Regions from separate parts of the Homo sapiens genome. Here all the other regions are linked to region 2. Evidence: fine-mapped expression QTL. A gene starts in region 2. Each other region holds a variant in brackets. All regions are shown on one strand. Distances are from middle to middle.

Region 1 (6,703 bases), 47 kb before region 2:
TGGGTGACCAATTTCTTTTTTTTTTTCTTTTTTTTTAAATTATACTTTAAGTTTTAGGGTACATGTGCACATATGTAACTGACTAATTTCTTTTGTAGAGTTGCAGTCATATCGTCTTGGGTTTGGGAGTGTAGTAAGAATGTCTGTGAATATGTCTGACTCTCCTTTCAAAAAACTGGCAAAGAAGAGAAGCAGTGGAGGGGAGGTTTTTGGATTAGCAGGAATTGAGCACGTTGGTAAAAGAAGAATCAATTTATAGAAGGGGAACTTGGTAGAACAAGGGAAGGCAGGGTAGTTTATTGAATAAATCCTAGAAGATGAGGACTCTCCTCTGAGTTGAAAGGTAAAGGTGCCTGAGAAGAAGTTTTGAGATCTTGGGGTCAGAGTGGAAGGAATTCATGGTTGATGGACTCTAATGCAGTTGACTCCCGAACAACATGGGTTTGAACTGTATGAGTCCACTGACACATCTATTTTTTTCAATAAAATTTGCACTAAGTGTGCCTGCCTTTCCTTCCAACTTCGTCACCTCTTCCACCTCTGCCACCTTTGCGACAGCAAGTCCAACTCCTTCTCTTACTCAAGGCTAGTTAACGTGAAGACGACGAGAATGAAGACCTTTACAAAGATCCACTTTCACTTAATAGTACATATATTTTCTTTTCTTTATGATTTTCTTTTCTCTAGAAAATAACGTTTTTCTCTAGCTTTATTATAAGAATATAGTATATAATGCAAATAACATAAAATAATGTTAATTGACTTTATGTTATTGGTAAGGCTTCTGGTCAACAATCAGGTGTTTGGGCAAGTCAGAAGTCAAGCAATTTTCAACTGTGTGGGGAGTCAGCACCCCTAACCCTGGTGTTGCTCAAGAATTAACTGTATATCAGTAAGAAACCAGATGCTCTGATGGGATTGAGAGACAAAAGTGAATGAGGAAGGGAATTGACTTGAATGGCAGGACAGGTTTGGAAGCAATTATATGGGAACTATGGAGTGAAATGAAAGGACTGTCGAGCCAGTTTGAGAATTCTGCTGAAGTTCAAATCTTTTAAAATTATATTTGTGCCATTTATCTTAATAAAGATTGGTGGGTAATGATATTTATTGAATTTACAGTATGGGGGAGTTGTTACTCTGTGTCATGGCAGCTTCATAGTACAAAGGAGGTACTATCATTTATCCCCATTTATAGAGATAGAACAAACATAGAGGTGAATAGCAGAGAGAGCTAAGACCACACAGTTGCTCCATGGCAGAACCAGGCTTTCAACCCAGGCGGCCTGACTGCAGAGCACCCTAGCTACTCTTCACGTCATTCTGTATTGCCTAAGGAAAGCTGGCTTGATGAAACACTGGAGATCAGCAGAGTGGGTGAGATAGATGAAGTGGCAAGAGAACGGAGGGTGCTGATGTGTGTTCTGAAGTTAACTTGGAGTTTGGATTAGGTAGGAAAGGAAGTGAAAGCGTGGAGGCTGATAGAGAGAGATTTGAGGATTTGAAGGTCAAAGAAGTAGTTTAGGTGAGATTGGGTAAAGAGAAATATGGAAGGCTTATGATTAGAGAGGAATGGGTTCACTGAGGTATAATATTTCTTGAGTAATTCCAAGGCTGCCATGTAGTCAAAGAAATGAATGGCTGAAGGAGAAGGGAAGTCTTTGGAGAAGAGAAGGCTTGAGGATCAGAGACCTGGATTAGAATGTGGATGTCATTGCTTTAGTGATGTTTTTCCTATTTGCAGTATTATTTCATTAATTTAGCCATTGCTATCTAAATAGTCTTTCTTAATTGTCTTAGATAATTTAGCCCTTTTATCCTACATAAACTTATAAAATGTAATACATCTCTCATCCTATATAAATTATTTGATATTTTAATCACTCAATAAAATATTTTCAAGCTTTTTAACTATTAATTTTTAGTTTCTTATGTTGAACAATTTTAGCTTAATCATGACTAATTCAGTTAAATTGAATATTAAGATACACAGATATGTTTTACTGCCTTTGCAATTTGATCTCTAAAATGATGTAAAATTAGGCAAGGCAGTTTTTTTAAGGAAGAAAAAGTGGAATAGAGCGAATGTTCACTGACTTTTTAAAAACCTTTTTATCTTTAGAATAGTTTTACATTTACAGAAAAATCAGAAGGCTGATACAGAGGGTCCCTGTGTACCCCACACCCAGCTTCCCCTATTGTTAGCGTCATAGATCAGTGGGTGCAGTTGTTAACAATTAGCGAGCCAGTGTTAATATCTTATTGTTAACTAAAGTCCATACTTTGTGTGGATTTCTTTCGTTTTTGCCCAGTGCCCCTTTTCTGTCTCAGGATCCCTTCCAGAATGCCACACTACATTTAGTTTCATGTCTGCTTAGGCTACTGTTGGCTGTGATCGTTTCTCAGATGTCCTGTCTCTGGTGACCTTGACGGTTTTGAGGAGTACTGATCAGGTGTTTTGTAGACTGTCCCTCAATTTGGGTTTGTCTGATGTTTTTCTCATGATTACACTGGGGATATGGGGTTTGGGGAGGAAGACCACCGAGGGACAGTATCATTCTCATCACACATATTAGGACTGCATGCTGTGAACATGACTTAATCATTGTTGATGTTAAGCTTGTTCACCTGAGGTACTGTTTGTCCGGTTTCTCCATTTTAAAGTTATTCCTTACACCTGCCCTCCCCCTGCCCCTTCCATACTGTACACTTTGGAAGGAAGTCACTGTGTGTATTAGTTTGTTGGGGACTGCCATAAAAAATGCCACAGTCTGGGTGGCTTAAATAACAGAAATGTGTTTTTGCACAGTGCTGGAAGCCGGATGTCCAAGACCAAGGTGCCTGCAGGGTTGGTTCTTGGTGAGGCGCCTCTCCTCTTCTTGCAGGAGGCAACTTCTCTCTGTGTCCTCACATGGCCTCTTCTCCGTGTGTGCATGGAGGAAGAGGGAGAACTTTGGTCTCTCCTTTCTTTTAAGGGCACTGGTCCTATTGGATTGGAGCCTGACCCTTGTTACTTTATTTAACCTTAATTGCCTTCTTAAAGGACCTATCTTGAAATACAGTCACTTTGGGGCTTTAGGGCTTCAACATAAGAATTTAGCCGGGCGCGGTAGCTCACGCCTGTAATCCCAGCACTTTGGGAGGCCGAGGCGGGTGGATCACAAGGTCAGGAGATCAAGACCATCCTGGCTAACACGGTGAAACCCCGTCTCTACTACAAAATACAAAAAATTAGCCGGGCATGGTGGCGGGCGCCTGTAGTCCCAGCTACTCGGGAGGCTGAGGCAGGAGAATGGCGTGATCCCGGGAGGCGGAGCTTGCAGTGAGCCAAGATCGCGCCACTGTACTCCAGCCTGGGCGACAGAGCGAGACTCCGTCTCAGAAAAAAAAAAAAAAAAAAAAGAATTTAGTGGGAAACAGTTCAATACATTACACTATACACAGCCCACACTTGAGGACTAGGGGTTTATGCTTTACCTTGTTGAAGGTGTGATTTCTACATAAATTATTTGCAGTTATTCGGAACAGATTTGTTTCTTCTCCCCTATTCATTCATTCATTCATTTATATCAGTATTGATTTCTGGATATTTATTTTATACTTTAGGTTATAATCCAATACAACATTATTTATTTTGTTGCTCACATTGTGAGTTTTGGACCTGGAGAGCTCATTTGGTTGGTTTCTGTGTTCCTTTGACATAAAGAAACGTCATTTTGTTTTTTGAGCACTTTCTTGCTCTCTGGCCCTAAATGATACTCTAACAGGTTCATATTGTATATTGTGTATTCTCTGTTCCCAGCCCTCAAATCAGGTATTTCTCAAGGAACCCTAGTTTCTTTCATTGGAGAGTGGTATTAGAAGCCAACA[C/T]GTGGATGCCATGTATGCTCATTGTTACTGAGGCATCATTGTTTCTATGGGCTCCTAGCTGACAGAACCTGGAAATATGCTGACCTGTGTGTATACACCTATCTATAATTATTTCTGTATGTATGCATTTATAGCTATATCAAGCTAAAATAGTTCACTGTTTCCAAATCTAATCCAGTATCTCATGGAAAAAATCTAGCCGCCTCTTGCTTGTCTGAAACCTTTCTATCCAACAATGAGAAACCTGGTTCCCACTATTTTTCATCAAACAAATCCATTTATTTGTTCAGTCCTGATATACATGTATAATGGTTTCAGAATTGTTAATTGTTTTTGCGTGAACTAGAGTACATTGCCTGTATACAGTTTCTTTTGCCTTTGTCTTATAGTCTCCATCTTTGAAGTCACTTAGGTCAGCACCTCTTTCTACCTTACTCCTTTCAGGGATGTTATATCATGCATTTGTAACAGTTAAGATTCTTTTGTCACTGTTTGCATTGCATCCTGGTATCCCCCAACCTCCTAATTGATTGTTTAAAATTTTGCATACATCAGGTTCACTTTTTGTGCACTTCTGTGGGTTTTGATAAGTGCATAATGTCATGTATCCACCACTATAGTATTATGCAGAACAGTTTCACCACCCTAAAATATCCCTTGTTTTACCTACTCAATCCCCTTCCACTCTTTCCGAAACTCTGGTAACCACTATTCTGTTTTCTGTCTTGATACTTTTGCTTTTTCTAGAATGTCTATAAATGGAATCATACAGTGTACAGGATTTTCAGACTGATTTCATTTACTTAGCACTTTAGATTCATTCTTGCTGTTACATTGATAGTTTATTTTTATTGCTAAGTAGTATTCCAATGTATGGATGTACTACAATGTTTGTCCATCTTGATGGCTTGTAGTTGTTGGCAGTTATGAATAAAGCTGGTGTAAACACGTATGCAGCTTTTGTGTGGACATACATTTTTTAATCAGTTGGAAAAATACCTAGGAATGTGATTGCTGGTTTGTGTGCTATGAATATGTTTAGTTTTATGCCTGCTAAACTGTCTTCTAAAGTGGTTGTACCATTTTGCATTCCTAGCAGCAATGAATGTGTGTTCCTCTTGTTCCACACCCTTGCCAGCAATTGTTATTGTCCATTTTTTGGGATTTTAGCTATTTTAATAGGTGTGCATAGTATCTTGTTGCTAAAATTTGCACTTTCTTTTTTTTTTTTTTCTTTTTTTTTGAGACAGAGTCTCACTCTTGTTGCCTAGGCTGGAGTGCAATAGCACGATTTCGGCTCACTGCAACCTCTGCCTCCCAGGTTCAAGAGATTCTCCTGCCTCAGCCTCCCAAGTAGCTGGGATTACAAGAATGCGCCACCACACCCAGATAATTTTGTATTTTTAGTAGAGATGGGGTTTCGCCATTTTGGCCACATTGGTTTCTTTTCTTTTCTTTTCTTTTCTTTTTTGAGATGGAATCTTGCTCTGTCGCCCAGGCTGGAGTGTGGTGGTGTGATCTCGGCTCATTGCAACCTCTGCCTCCTGGGTTCAAGCAATTCTCTGCCTCAGCCTCTGAGTAGCTGGGATTACAGGTGCCCGCCGCCATGCCTGGCTAATTTTTGTATTTTTAGTAGAGACGGGGTTTCACTATCTTGGCCAGGCTGGTCTTGAACTCCTGACCTGATGATCCACGCTCCTCAGCCTCCCAAAGTGCTGGGATTACAGGGGTGAGCCACTGCGCCTGGCTGGCCAGGCTGGTTTCAAACCCCTGACCTCAGGTGATCCACCTGCCTCAGCCTCCCAAAGTGCTGGGATTACAGGCGTGAGCCACTGCAATTTGCACTTCCTAATGACAATAGTGAACATCTTTTTATATGCTTAGTTTTCATCTATATATATTTTCTGATGAGGTTTTTGTTATGCTCTTTTACCAGTGTTTTAATTGGGTTGTTTTCTTATTGTTGACTTTTAAGAATTCTTTGTGTACTTTGTATACATGTACTTTACCATACATGTATATTTTAAATATTTTTTCCTAGTGTGTGGTTGTCTTTTCTTTAACAGTGTCTTTCGCAGAGCAAGTTTTAATTTTAACGAAGTCCAACTTAACTAACTTTTTCTTCCATGGATGACACTTTTGGTGTTGTATCTAAAATAGCACCACCAGATGCAAGATCATACAGGTTTTTTTCCTTTTTTCTTATGGAAGTTTTATAGTTTTGCATTTTACATTTAGGTCTATGATCCATTTTGAGTTAATTTTTGTGTAAGGTGTGAGATCTCTGCTTAACTTCATTTTTCTCGATGTTGATATACAATTTTGCACACCTTGTTGAAAAGACTTTTTTTCTCCACTGAATTACCTTTATGCTTTTGTCACAAATCAGTTGAGTATATTTGTGTGGGTCTATTTCTGAGCTCTCTTTTCTCTTCCATTGGTTTATTGATCTTTCACTAACACCATGCTGACTTGATTACTGTCGCTTTATAGTTAAGTCTTGGAAATGGGTAGTGTGAGTCCTCCAACTTTGTTCTTTTTCAGCATTGCGTATGCTATTCTAGGCCCTTTGCTCCTCCTTCACTGAATTTTAAAATTTAAAAACTAAAATAAAAATGGTTAATCCTCAGAGATGCACTATAAATGTGATGTTTCTTTAATTCATTTTTCAGGTGGTTCTTTGAAGCTCTGAAGTATCCCAAGTTTTCTAAAGCTATCGTTATCAATGGAATACTCATGACAGTAGTATTCTTCATCGTGCGGATTGCCTCAATGCTTCCTCATTATGGCTTCATGTATTCCGTGTATGGAACAGAACCCTACATAAGGCTTG
Region 2 (6,703 bases):
GTAGCTGATATTTTCACAGTGCAAGAAATATCAAGCTGACATTATGCAGTCTCTGAGATGATTATTTCCAAATGTCAGAGTGCAGAAACTTATTCATGGGACTTCAGTGCCTTAGGATAGTGTCAATTTAAAAGACATTCACATTGACTTCTTTTTTATTTAAACATGCTAAATGAGGTATGAAAAGCAGATTAAGAAATCAACTGAGAAAGGAAGAGCAAAGAAGAAACCTATTGACAAGAAAATTTTAAATCATAGATTGATGTACTCTTTAATCAATTTTCATGGACCTATTGCTGACAGCAGGCTTTAGCAACTGCCTCCTAATCCTTCCTACAGCTGTAATTTTGCTCTTCATGTTATTTCACTCATCTCACTTATAGTGAATTTGGAAAATTAAAAATAAGTAAAAACTATTTGAATATTTTATAGATTTTTTTTTGCTCTTGAGACGGAGTCTCGCTTGGTTGCCTAGGCTGGAGTGGTGCAAAGGTGCGATCTCGGCTCACTGCAACCTCCGCCTCCCGGGTTCAAGCGATTCTCCTGCCTCAGCCTCCTGAGTAGCTGGGATGATAGGTGCTTGCCACCACGCCCAGCTAAATTTTGTATTTTTAGTAGAGACAGCATTTCACCATGTTGGTCAGGCTGGTCCCGAACTCCTGACCTCAGGTGATCCACCCGCCTCGGCCTCCCAAAGTGCTGGGCTTACAGGCATGAGCCACTGCGCCCAGCCTATTTTATAGATTATTTTCAATAAATAAGTCAAAAACCAAATTGTTTGACTTTTCATAGTAACACTGGATTTCGAATTAAAATAACTTAGTAATATTTTAAATTAAAAACGTATTCTTTTGTTCAATCTCTTTAGCAGTTAATTATGAACCTACTGAACTGCTGGAACGTCTGTTATTTTGGAAATAAAGGAGTTTTTTTTTTCTTCAAGCCAATTGGCCATATCAGAGATAACTGCATTTAAATAAGCCTTCATCTTCCCAATTATGTGCTCCTAATTACTCGGGGTCACTGAAATCCCATGGCATCTTCTGAAAAGCATTTTCCCTGCAGTCCATCTTGTTAGGTTTCCTTTCTGTTCCGGGAAGCCAGTATCTTTTCCTTTATCAGATTCCTTTTTTACCAACAGCGGGAATGGTAATGGTGAATGGATGCAGGGTTTTAAAATCAGCCAACTTTGTTCTGACTTCCGTAGGTCAGTGACTGGAGTCACTGCCTAACAACCTAAATTCCCAGATTTATCTCATGAAATGTGATTTCTCATACAAACAAAAGTTGTGAGAACTCCATGAGCAAGACCAGCTGCTTGTGGGGACTGCCAAATTTTAAACTGTTATTTGAACAGCAAAAAGACCAGGCAAACATCCGAGAGACAGACCTAACTGCAGATAAGTCTTGTAATCTTGTTCACTATAGTCAAAACAGAATGGATTGCTTATTCTGTTACCCTATTGGTATTGCTCACATTTTAAAATTTAGGTGCTGGGCTCAAGAATGATAATTTTATTATTAAGCTTCAAGAGTCACATTGTATTGTATGCATTGAATATCACGAAATCGAAAACACTGAAAAGCTAGCGTTTACATTCTTGGATCATACCCCCAAAGGCCAAGGATTCCCACTGGCCGCTTGCAGCAGGGCTGTCTCCTGTGAAGGCAAGAGACAAACGAGGAGCGTTATGACACTTTGCTCCCAGGACTTTGGCGCACAGTTCCCATGAGTCCAGGTCCGTCCAGTCAACATCCTGAAGCCAGGACTGGCAGGTCCTGACCCTCCCTTTTTGCACCCGTAAGGGGAAGGGCCCGGGAATCTGGACCTTGTCTAGAGTCCCGGCGCCAGTACCAGTTCGGAGGGCATCCTGGAGGTTGTTACTAACCCGAGCCTCTTCCAGGCTTCCCAGGCACCAGGGTTGCTAACAGCTCCACGGGGGCGAATAATTTTGTTTATTTTGTTAACTGTGGTTATCTCCAACACTCAGTTCAGACCTGAGCCGGGCAAAGTCTCACCTTGTCTCCTGGTCACTTCCCTGCTTGTTTGTTTCTTCCTAACTCCCAAGTGTCTTTCGCCCAGTTCATCCCCACCTCAGCAGCCCAAGGCTCGGCGGGGACGGTCGGGGTTCGAAGCCTGCAGCTAAACTTAGAGGGTTCAGGCTTTGCTGGGAGGCCTCCCTGTGCTCAGAAGAGCCGGGGGTAAGCTGGGCGGTCGCCTTGGGTGCAGACAGAGGCGCAGGGCCTCGGCCTCCAAGAAAATTCCCAAACCGAGAGGCTGAGCTTCGCGTCTGTAGTTACTGAGCAGGAGCTTCTGGGCGGAACTTCTAAGGGCCCCGCCCGCCCCGTCTGCCCTGACCCTCGCCCGGACTCGCCTCGCCCACGTCCCGTTTCGCTTCGCCCCAGCTCCGTCTCGCCCCGCCCCCGTCCCGCCCGGTTGCGGAGGCGCGGGGCGCCCCCGGGTGGCCGCGGGCAGTGCTGCTCCTGGCCGGTGGAGGCGGCGGCTGCGGCAGCGGAAGGGGAAGCGCTGAGGCGGTGGGGCCCACAGCCATGGCGGAGCCTGTGCAGGAGGAGCTCTCGGTCCTGGCCGCGATTTTCTGCAGGCCCCACGAGTGGGAGGTGCTGAGCCGCTCAGGTGACTACCCGCGCGCGGGAGGGACAGGGCGCCCTCAGGGGCCACCCGCGTTCGCTTTGCGTCTCCTCCCCACCACGGAGCCTGGGCACCCCGCCTGGGCCCACGTATGGGGACCGGGTTAGTTGAATGATGGAATGACACGCCCGGAGGCCGGAGTGGTGTCGCAGCGGGCGGGAGTGTGAGGCGACCCCAGAAACACTAAGAGAGCGGCGCGGCCCACTGGGGCCTCTGCCGCCGGTCCCGCTCCCGGAGCCGGGGGCCCCTGCGTGCGCACCCCCAGGCCCTCCCCCAGCCTCCCACCCCTCAGATCTCACCCTATAAAGAAGCCTGTGCTGACGCCCCCTCGTTGTTCTGTGTCCTTCCTAAGCACTATGCCCTAGGCCCCCCCGAGAGCACTCCCCGGTTCTAACTCTACACGGGTATTTGTAGGTCTTAAGTTGCAGGAGGGCAGGGTCTGTTTGGTAATGACTCCAGGCACCTGGTAGGTAGTAGGTAAATGTTTGTTGACTGAACTTTTTCATTTATCCAGTGCTCAACCTCAACTTTATCTGCATTCTATTTCCAAGTTGATTGCTTTTCTGATACTTTTTTTTTTTTAGGTGGAGTCTCTCTTGTTGCCCTGGCTGGAGTGCAGTGGATCCATCTGGACTCACTGCAGCCTCCGCCTCCCGAGTAGCTGGGATCACAGGCGCGTGCCACCATGCCTGGCTGAATTTTATTTATTTTATTTTATTTATTTTTTATTTTTTAAGACGGAGTCTTGCTTTGTCGCCTAGGCTGGAGTGCAGTGGCGCGATCTCGGGTCACTGCAACCTCCGCCTCCCGGGTTCACGCCATTCTCCTGCCTCAGCCTCCCGAGTAGCTGGGACTACAGGCGCCCACCACCACGCCCGGCTAATTTTTTGTATTTTTTTTTTTAGTAGAGACAGGGTTTCACCGTGTTAGCCAGGATGGTCTCGATCTCCGGACCTCGTGGTCCGCCCGCCTCGGCCTCCGAAAGTGCTGGGATTACAGGCGTGAGCCACTGCGCCCGGCCTTTTTTTTTTTTTTTTTTTTTTTTTGAGACAGAGTCTTGTTCTGTCCCCCAGGCTGGAGTGCAGTGGCGCGATCTCGGCTCACTGCAAGCTCCACCTCCTGGGTTCACACCATTCTCCTGCCTCAGCCTCCCGAGTAGCTGGCACTACAGGCGCCTGCCACCATGACTGGCTAATTTTTTGTATTTTTAGTAGAGACGGGGTTTCACCATGTTGGCCAGGCTGGTCTCAATCTCCTGACCTCGTGATCCGCGCGTCTCGGCCTCCCAAGGTGCTGGGATTACAGGCGTGAGCCACAGGTGCCTGGCCTTCTGATACTTTTTTTTAAACAAGCTCTTGAGGGCTTTATTAGTCATTTAGCCCACATTTATTGAATCCCTGCTGCCTACAGACTTTGTCAGGGTTTCAGAGACACCGCTACCCATGGCCTCTAGGAGCTTACAGTGTAGAGAGGTTCTTTTGACTATTTTTTGATGATAGGTGAAACTTACTGTCCCTGTATGTGGCTTCTATTGAATAAAAAAAAAAGAAAAAACACTGCCATGTATGAGAAAGTGACTCAGTTTTCACTTAGCTTTCAGATACATTATGTACATGTTTGGGGCATGAGATTTATCGTTCTAATGTTATATTGTAGCTACCATTAAAATTGGCTTTCTGACCATAAATTGGTTAACCTTTAAGAAGGTAGTCTAGGCCTGGCGCGTGGCTCATGCCTGTAATCCCAGCACTTTGGGAGGCCGAGGCGGGCAGATCACCTGAGGTCAGGAGTTCAAGACCAGCCTGGCCAACATGGCGAAACCCCATCTCTACTAAAAATACAAAAATTAGCTGGGCATGGTGGCACACGCCTGTGATCCTTGCTACTCGGGAGGCTGAGGCAGGAGAATCACTTGAACCCGGGAGGCGGAGGTTGCAGTGAGCCAAGATCTCACCATTCATTGCACTGCAGCCTGGGTAACAAGAGTGAAACTCTGTCTCAGAAAAAAAAAAAAAAAGTAGTCTAAAAATGGGCTGGATGTTGTGAGAAAACCATTTAAGATTAAGATCCTTCATGATATCCATTGGGTGTGTTATTCACTGAAGGACAGGGAGTTGACTTCCATTTATTCCTTCTTGCATTCATCCACTCACATCCACTCATTGGGCACTGTTATGTTCCAGGCACTATGCACCTATTAGTGTAATGGAGTTGCTTTCTTTTTAGTGCCCAGCCTGACTTGTATCTTTTGAAACAATTGTTTAAAATCCATATGAAGGGGTTTACTCACTTTTAGTGTTTTCTTGTCATCCCTCTTCTGATTGGATAATTCTTCACCATCTCCCTCTCTGTCTCCACTGTTCTCTTTATTGATAATTACTTCTGCCTGAGGCAGCTATTTGAAGAGATCATCAGTTTTCCTAAATTCCTTTATTATGGCTCAGTTGGGAATATCCTGGAAAAATGAACCTGCAATTTCCCATCACACCTTAAAGAACTGGTAATGGTCTGGGTCATTAGTACACAGCTGAGCATAAAACACTGCTGAAGGGTCAGAGAAAACCCAAAAATGTAAGCATAGAAAGAAAACAGTTTCTTAATCTTGAGAACACTGTGAACCCTTTATCTGCTGTTAAATTGAGCATGACTTTCAAGCCATGCCTCCTAATTAGTTTAATTCCATGTTCTGGCATCAATAAGTAATTGAATTATAAAAGAATTCAGTGTAACAACTTAGGACATTTTGTTGCTGAGAGGTAGAATAATTCAGTGATTGAAATGGGGATGTTTGATGTTCACAAGTGGGAATTAAGGGGGTAAGGTAAAGGCCTTTTTTTTTTTTCCCATGATTTTCGTAACATCTTTTTACAAAGTAAGGACTTCTTTAACAGACCACAGTAAACATGCAGCAGACTGCTGGCTACCACTCACCATCACTGTCAGTTTGGGTTGGAGGATACACACTTGATACCAGAACACTCTAAACACTAGTTCTTTTCTGGCCTCCCCCAAATAAGGTTCTCCCTTTTGCCACTGGAATCAGGAGAATGTTGCAGAGGAATTGCATTCCTGGTAACAAGATAACCCAGCAAGACTCAGACTGCTAACCCAAGGATCAACTATTAAGGCCGTAAGATTGAAGAAGCTAAATAATTGGATTCCATTTAGCTGGACTAATTTTATGCTGAGAATTTCAGGGGATTTTATCTGCCTTTTGATCTCTTTACAATGGTTATAGTAAGCTTCTAGTAAGAGGCATAACCATCTCTTAGGGGTGCAAATTAAGTAAGTCCCTACACTCCCATCTACAAGGGAGGGCTGTGGATAGACCACATTAGGGATATTCTGTTTTTCTGTATGCATTGTAGTCAGTCCAGGTGCCAGATTTGATGGGGTGACCTGCCATGTACGTGATACTTGAAATGCATCTTACTTGATGAGGGGTACTATTGGTCTTACTTCACAGAGAAGATAACTGATACTCAGACTGGTTAAATAACCACCAGGCTCCAGGTGTATGGGCCTTTGCACTGCATCATGCTCCTTAATAGAGAGATGGGGCTGTTGCATCAGGAAAATAGTTCTTGGAAAGCAAGGAAATACTTGTGCAGAAAGAGCGATAATGAGCACCCAGAGAAAAGATATGAGTGTGAGCCAACTTATGTTCAGAACAATCCCAAAGGGGAGTGTTTGTGCATGTATGTGTGGATCTATGAGAGGCGTGAGATTGGTATTGTATCACCATTTTCCTGATGAGGAAATTGAGTGACACAGATTATGTGGCCATAGTCAATGTTCGTTATATGTGGGAGTTGTGCTTCTGGAAAGAATCTTACAGATAAAAAAGTTGTAAGATGGGAGAACCCAATATCATGTAATAGGTTTTCACAGAAGCTGCAGAGTGAATTTTTGTATTTTAGCAACACTAATGTTCAAATTAGTTTGGGCCTTCTTATAAAATGAATCATGACTGTCACACATTGACCCCTCTAAATCTGCTCAGCTCGGTTTTATGCTGATTGTCAGTATTGAGCTGACTTCTATAAAACCGAT
Region 3 (6,703 bases), 110 kb after region 2:
TTATAATCTGATTTTTTTTTTCACTTATTTTGTAAGTACTTTTTCCCAGTCAATTTCACATATATTTTCAGTTCCCTTAACTGTCAAATGAAGATAATATGATATTATTTCACAGGATTATTGTGAGGATTATATGAAATTGTGCATTCAAAACCCTGAGAGCAAAGTGAGGCCCCTTGTAAGTGATCCATGAATGGTAGTCCCTTTTCTCCTTTCTCTTGTTCAGTCTTCATGTTATGAAATCAGTAGCCCTAGCAGTGGCTAAAGAGAACATGTTCCCTGGAATACTTTGTCAGGTGTTAATAGATATTGGATAAGAGGGGTCCTACGGGCAATGGATTCGGAGAATGTGATATAAACAAATTTAAGCATGTATCTTTACAAAGGACTTCTTAAAGACTTTAATAAGCTCATCTGCTTTGTACATATTCAGAAAAGGATAGATATGCAATATTTCTCACAGTTAATTGACCTCAATGAGTGTCTCATGAAGTACAATTTGTAATGTGGATGCCTGAATCCCCTGGGGTCTTACTTTAAGGTCTCCTTAGAGGCAGTGGTCAGAGCCTGTGAGAAAAGCTCCAGTTAAATGGGCCTGTTTTGCCAAACTGCCCACCTTACTAGTCCACCCTGGGTTGGCATCAGTAGTTATATAGAGTAAGAAATTCAAGGCCCTCAAACAATTTTATTGATCCTGCATTGCTTTAGTAATAATGCCATAAACAAATGCACCCACTGAACAGCAGTTAGTTGATGCTGGCTAACAAAGCCACCCCTCTTGCTATCATTGATTTTATCTTTAGCTACCTATTTTCCCAGAAGAACTAAAGGAGGTGATTTTATTTCTGTTGATTCCATTCTTGAGATCGTTATGTTGATTATGCGTATTCTCTTCTTTTCATGTAGATGTTTGAAATTTCTCTAGGAAACATTTTCTCCTGCCTAAGATTGCACAGAGCATCATTTTTAACACGTAGTAAATGTTGCTGAGTAGAAAAATGTGTGCATTACAACGTATTTTTGCAAAGTAAGAGGTTTATATCTTTGTAATTATTTTCAATGTGTGTTTATTGATTTTTATAATACAGGGATATTAACTTGAAAGAGAACAAATTACATACAACAAATTAAGCACTTGCATGGATTAGAAAATCGAGGTAGTGCACTCAAGGCATGACTAATACGAGAGTGTTGCACGATAGAAGAACTGTGTGGTTTTACACCACATCTGGGAGGATTTCATCCAGCTACTTGTCTGAAAGGATCTTTAACTGAAATGCAGGTGCAAGATGGCATAAATTTATAGAATTAGAGAATTTTAGAACTGGAAGAGAACCTTAGATAAAGAAAGTGAGGATAAGAAAAATCAAGAATCATATTCAAGATTATAGAAAACTGGTGGCCTGGCCAGAGCTAGAACCTATGTTCCTGGACATTGGTCTTGTGTTGACATCCCAACTACATATAGTTTCTTCTTGAGTTTTTGTGACATCATTGATCAGCTTTGTAACCTTGGACAAATAACTCTTTCCTCATTCATAAAATAAGAACAGCACCCAAATGATTTGTATTAGTCCGTTTTCATACGCTATAAAGAGCTGCCCAAGAGTGGGTAATTTATAAAGGAAAGAGGTTTAACTGACTCACAGTTCAGCATGGCTGGGGAAGCCTCAGGAAATTTACAATCATGGCGGAAGGCAAAAGAGAAGCAAAGCCCCTTATTCACAAGGCAGCAGGAAGGAGAAGGAAAGCAGGAGGAACTACCAAACACGTATAAAACCACTCGTGAGAACTTACTCACTATCATGAGAACAACATGGGGGAAACCGTCTTTATGATTCAATTACCTCCACCTGGTCTCTCTCTTGACACGTGGGGATTATGGGGATTAAAATCCAAGATGACACTTTGAGTGGGGACACAGCAAAATCATATCATAAAGAGAAAATATGTATAGATGTAGCATTAGGTTTAGCACAAATTAATATACACTATCACTTTATTCATTTGGCATGTATTTATTGAATCTGTATGAAGTTTCAGGCCCTAATTTCTTTGAGAACAGATTTTTCCTTCCAGTGCAGATATTTACCATAAGCATTTAACATAATTTACATGACATATTTTTCAGTGTGTAGGGAAAATATTTTACATTTGACTACAATAATCGCAAAGAAGACATATTCAAAAATTCTCAAATTCTAAAATTCAAAGACTTGTTATATGATGTGAAACCCATTTGACTAAAGTTGCTATATAAACTACTTATTAATTTACTAACTTATAAATAACTTTTTAAAAAGGGAAATGACAAGTGATATTCTTATTCTCTAAAATAATGGATCAGAAGCACTTTTCTCCAGGAAGGTAAGAGTGCTGCTAGCCCAGTGGGGCCAAAGCTTTCAAGGGATGGAGCAGCTGAAAGGGTCCAAACATCTCTTGCCTGCCATGCGTCTCAGACCTTTTCTTTCAATTTGTCTCCTTCTCAGTTCAGTCTCCTAGTTTGATATGTACCTGAGGTTTGGGGCAAAATGATTTCAAAATGGATAATGAAAATTTTTCAGGATTCAGAACAACTCAGTTCATGGTGCTCATCCCCTGGTTCTGCTTCTTTCTAAGGACTGGAGTTGAAATTTGTAGAAATAAAAGACTAGGTGAATGGTGATCAGGTATCACTTGTTAACCAGTGCTGAGGGCACTCCCTCCCAAGATGACTTTGGATCTTCTAGTAGTTTCTTAGAACTTGACAGTGGGTTGGAAGGAGCAGGGTGTAGGAATCAATAGTGGATTGATTTGAATATCCTCTTCAGCAGGACCTGACGTGTCTCTTAAGGTTAATGTGACAGGTGA[G/A]CCCATGGCTTATCTTGGCTAGCTCTGGGCAAGAGGAGGTCTACAAGACAGTAAAATTTGTTGGAATTGTCATACAGTTTCAGATTGATAACTGGAAGTTTTCCACCAGATCACATCTATGCTTTAAGGGAACATGATCTCTAGATCTTTCTGGCGTGTTTGTTATACTTCTCCTTTTGATTGATTGCCTTTCGTGGTTCAAAATGCTACAGAAATATTAGTAGTTTGTTCTTATAACACACTTTTTAAAAAGTTGTTTTGAGCTAGTGTCAACTTTTCTAATAAGTTGAACAGGTTCATTCTTCAATTCATATTTGGAAGCTTGATATTACAGCGAAGTTTCCACTTTCATAAAGAATCAGTAATTACACATTAGTATTTGTTATCATCTAATCCTTGTATATATTTCCCTTCCCCTTATGAAATTTGAAAATATTTTCTAAATTTAATTATATTGCCTCAAATCTTAAATATTATGTGGGAAAATATGATGCTTCCTATAGAATAGTCCCCAACTTACAGATTATTTATTTCTTATGTTTATTTCAAAACTTGCTCGTTTGAAACTCAGAAAGCACTTATCCAAAGAAATACTATGAATATGGTTATATTTCTAAACAATTTTTTTCATCCATAATGTACCTGAAATATTTTACATTTATATTGTAAGGTAGACAGAAAAACAGTTGCTAAAATAGCAAACAAGAACAAAATTGTAAAAACAGACAAGGAAGTCAATATTTATTTATATTAAATGCTAGGTTTGGGGAAAACCAATTTTAATTATAGGAGAATTTTTGGAACTTTAGGAGAGCCCCTGAAGGGATTTTCAGAATCATGAAAAGTTTGTTGTGTGGGCTCTTCAATACATTGAGTTTTGATGTTCTATTCTTTCATACAAGTGTATTAGTAACATTGTATTTATATAACCTCAGCTACGGCCAGGGCAATTCTTTGGTTTCATATATAAATTTGGGAGAGTGAGTATAAGACAGGAATTAGTAGAAGAACTGCTGCAGAGCATTGAAGGCCATTTAGAGGATGACATCAGGAATTGGAAATGGGGCTGCTAAGGACTGACTTCTGTCCTCTCAAGGCTCATATGTTGAAGCTCTACCCACAGTGTGATGGTGTTTGGATATGGGGCCTTGGGGAAACAATTAGGTTTAGATAGGGTCACAAGGGTGGATTTCCCCATGATGGGATTAGTGCCCTTGTAAGAAAAGAAAGAGACACCAGAGCTTCCTCTCTGTGGCCATGAGGACACAGGTAGAAGGCAGTCATCTGCAAGGCAGAAAGATAGCCCTTGCCAGGAGCCCAGTCATGCTGGCACCTCAATCTTGGACTTCCAGCCTCTAGAACTGTGAGAAATACATGTCGGCTGTTTAAACTACCCAGTGTATGATATTTTGTTGTAGCAGTCAAGCTGATTAATACAGGGGCCAGATTATGGAATCCTGTGATCCTCTCCAGAGGTGAAATGCATGGTTTACAGCATGGTTCCAGGGTTGAGTTTTCAATTAATGGTAAAGGGGAAGGACAAATACTATGGAGTGGAAAGCAGGGGAAAGAAAATGCTTTGGATGATCAAATTTGGGGTCTTGGCAAGCAGGGAAGAGAAGAATCAGGAAGAATTCATCTTGCAAGGAAGTGGAGGTTTGAGGGAATTGGAGGCTAATTGTTGGACATTCATTTCTGGGAGAGTGCTATATTGATGTGGTTAAGACTTACTACGTAGCCTTGTGAACAAACTGGCTTTTCTGTGACATTCAGACATGGAATTTGAAGCTTTATGTTTTTTTTAAGTAAAATCCGTGGTTTTTAAATTTTTCTACTTTTTTACATTGAACATTTTGAAATATTTTTAATAATCCATATTAGTGTACAGTGTAATGTGTAGTTCTTTTGCTTAATGATACTTATAAGTTCTGATTTCTCTCTCTGAATAATTTTCATATTTGGTGCTTACATAAGGCTTCACAAAATCTTGTGCAATTGTCTAATAAACTAGTCTTATGTTTGTGTTAAGAGAAAAAAAATCAAAGACATGGAATATTTGTTATGGTCAAATGTGAATATGTTGGTTCTAGGACAAGACACTGCTGAAACATCACTCTAACACTCCCACCCTAGTTTTGAATGGGGGTGGGTGTGGATGGGTTTTCAGATTTTTTACTCAACATTTCACAGATGTTTCCAAATGTCTTTGTGCTACTGTAACATGCGAGTGCTTTTCTCCATTCATCTTCTGAGTTTCTTTTGGGGATCAAGTGAGATAATGCTCATGCAAGCTCCTTGTAAATAGTCACGTTCTATGCATGTGTTAATTCTTCTCTGCCTTGCTATTTAGATACAATGGCTATACTCAAACAAATACATCGAGGGCAACTTCCAGGACCAAAAGCTACAGCTCGGCACTTTTCCCTGCTACACTCCTGGGTTTACTTCTTAGTGAATGCTAAATGCTTGTGGCAGGATCCTGACCCCAAATCATTACAATGGATAGACTGTGCGCGCACAGCTTAAACTATACGTGCGCTTGCTGCAACATGATGGATATAACGGCTTGCTGAGAATTTGATTTATTTTCCAATAGTTTAGCATCCCTCTGCTTTTATCTGATATGACTATTTTACAAGCGTGTGTACCAAGCATGGCTTCAAAATTGCAGGTTATGAAATATAGAAAATGGAACAATTGCCGTGCATAGCAGAAATCTTCCTGTTCAGTCTGCATGCGTATATTTTAAAGTAAGATGGACTGCTGAATGGTGAGGAGCTTGCCTTGGGCTTCATTTTTTTCCCCTACAGGTGAAAGGAAATGCAAGACTTTCTTCTTCATTTTCAACTTCATATTGTTAGTTAGTTTTTCACAGGCTGGTCTGTGATGATGGGTTTTTGCCTTATCATTTGCTGGCATAATAAAAATGACATGATGATGCAGAAGAGAGCAGTTCCCCTTTAGGATGGAACAGAACAGCCAATACCAGTGATGGAAACATAGCAGGCTGATGGGGATGACTCCCCCTTTCTCATTTCACCTCAACCCAGTTCTCCATTTTCAATAATACACTTGTTTACTGAGAAATGGTCATCAGTACACTTGTTTACTGAGAAATGGTCATCAGATGCATAGGTTTGTGCATAGGAAGGACTGGCTAGTTGACAGTCTGCGTGGCTGAGGTACCAGCACAGCAACACTGTTCCTAGAAGGTCAGCTTGCCTCAGTGGAGGTTATATGTAATTTGGAGTTCTTACCTGAAATATTTCTCTTCCCCACACCATCATAATTGACTCTTGCCTGTGCCTAATTGGGACCTAACAAAAGAGCAAACTGAGGGCTGGTTCGCCTCTAATAACACTCCTACTCTGTTGGAGGTTTCCTTTAGTGCAGCTGTGTGGAAGGGATTGCCAGCCAGTATGGACCCTGATTGTCATCACTCCAAACAGACTTAAGCAGAAGCCAAGTGTGACAGACTTAGAACCTTGTGCTGGTGTAGCAGAGCAGGCATGTTAATGGGTAATGCAAGGAGGCTGAGGGATTAAATGTGCAGCTATTCTTTGGATATGTCAGGGATGTCTGTCATCTAGGACTTTCTCCCTGGACTAAGTACTCACCAATGCATTAAAATACTTGGTGAAAACTCAGATAACAACCCCACTTTCATGGGTAGACAACTCTATCAACTTACGTTTCTTATATGCCATGATGCTCTTGAGTTTCTCCAGTTTAGAGACACACTGCACTATGTATCTCTTTCTTTTGCTCCGCTGTATATCTTGGATAATTAATCATTTGATGATTTTCAGTAAGTTCATAATAAACAAATAATTTGGCAATTATTTCAGAGCAG

Evidence for each region.
Region 1: its variant is fine-mapped to the expression of RWDD3 in whole blood (TOPMed, PIP 0.97).
Region 3: its variant is fine-mapped to the expression of RWDD3 in vagina (GTEx, PIP 0.96).

What each region holds. Positions count from the first base shown.
Region 1 is chr1:95,185,008-95,191,710 of GRCh38, forward strand. TLCD4 (TLC domain containing 4) reads left to right here. Exons shown (of 7, transcript NM_152487.3): 7 at 6,543-6,703. All of the region lies in intron 6 of TLCD4-RWDD3 (TLCD4-RWDD3 readthrough), which reads left to right. All of the region lies in intron 3 of RWDD3-DT (RWDD3 divergent transcript), which reads right to left. Among named protein-coding and RNA genes, the nearest start is that of RWDD3-DT, 46 kb to the right of the region's middle. The variant C/T (reference allele first, on the strand shown) is at 3,871.
Region 2 is chr1:95,231,681-95,238,383 of GRCh38, forward strand. It overlaps RWDD3 (RWD domain containing 3), which reads left to right and starts at 2,530. Exons shown (of 4, transcript NM_015485.5): 1 at 2,530-2,635. The coding sequence starts at 2,551. The region is part of intron 7 of TLCD4-RWDD3 (TLCD4-RWDD3 readthrough); the gene reads left to right. RWDD3-DT (RWDD3 divergent transcript) reads right to left here and starts at 2,302. Exons shown (of 4, transcript NR_125949.1): 1 at 2,020-2,302. RefSeq lists silencers at 2,271-2,600, 2,811-2,990.
Region 3 is chr1:95,340,570-95,347,272 of GRCh38, forward strand. No RefSeq gene overlaps it. Among named protein-coding and RNA genes, the nearest start is that of LINC01650, 8.2 kb to the right of the region's middle. The variant G/A (reference allele first, on the strand shown) is at 2,851.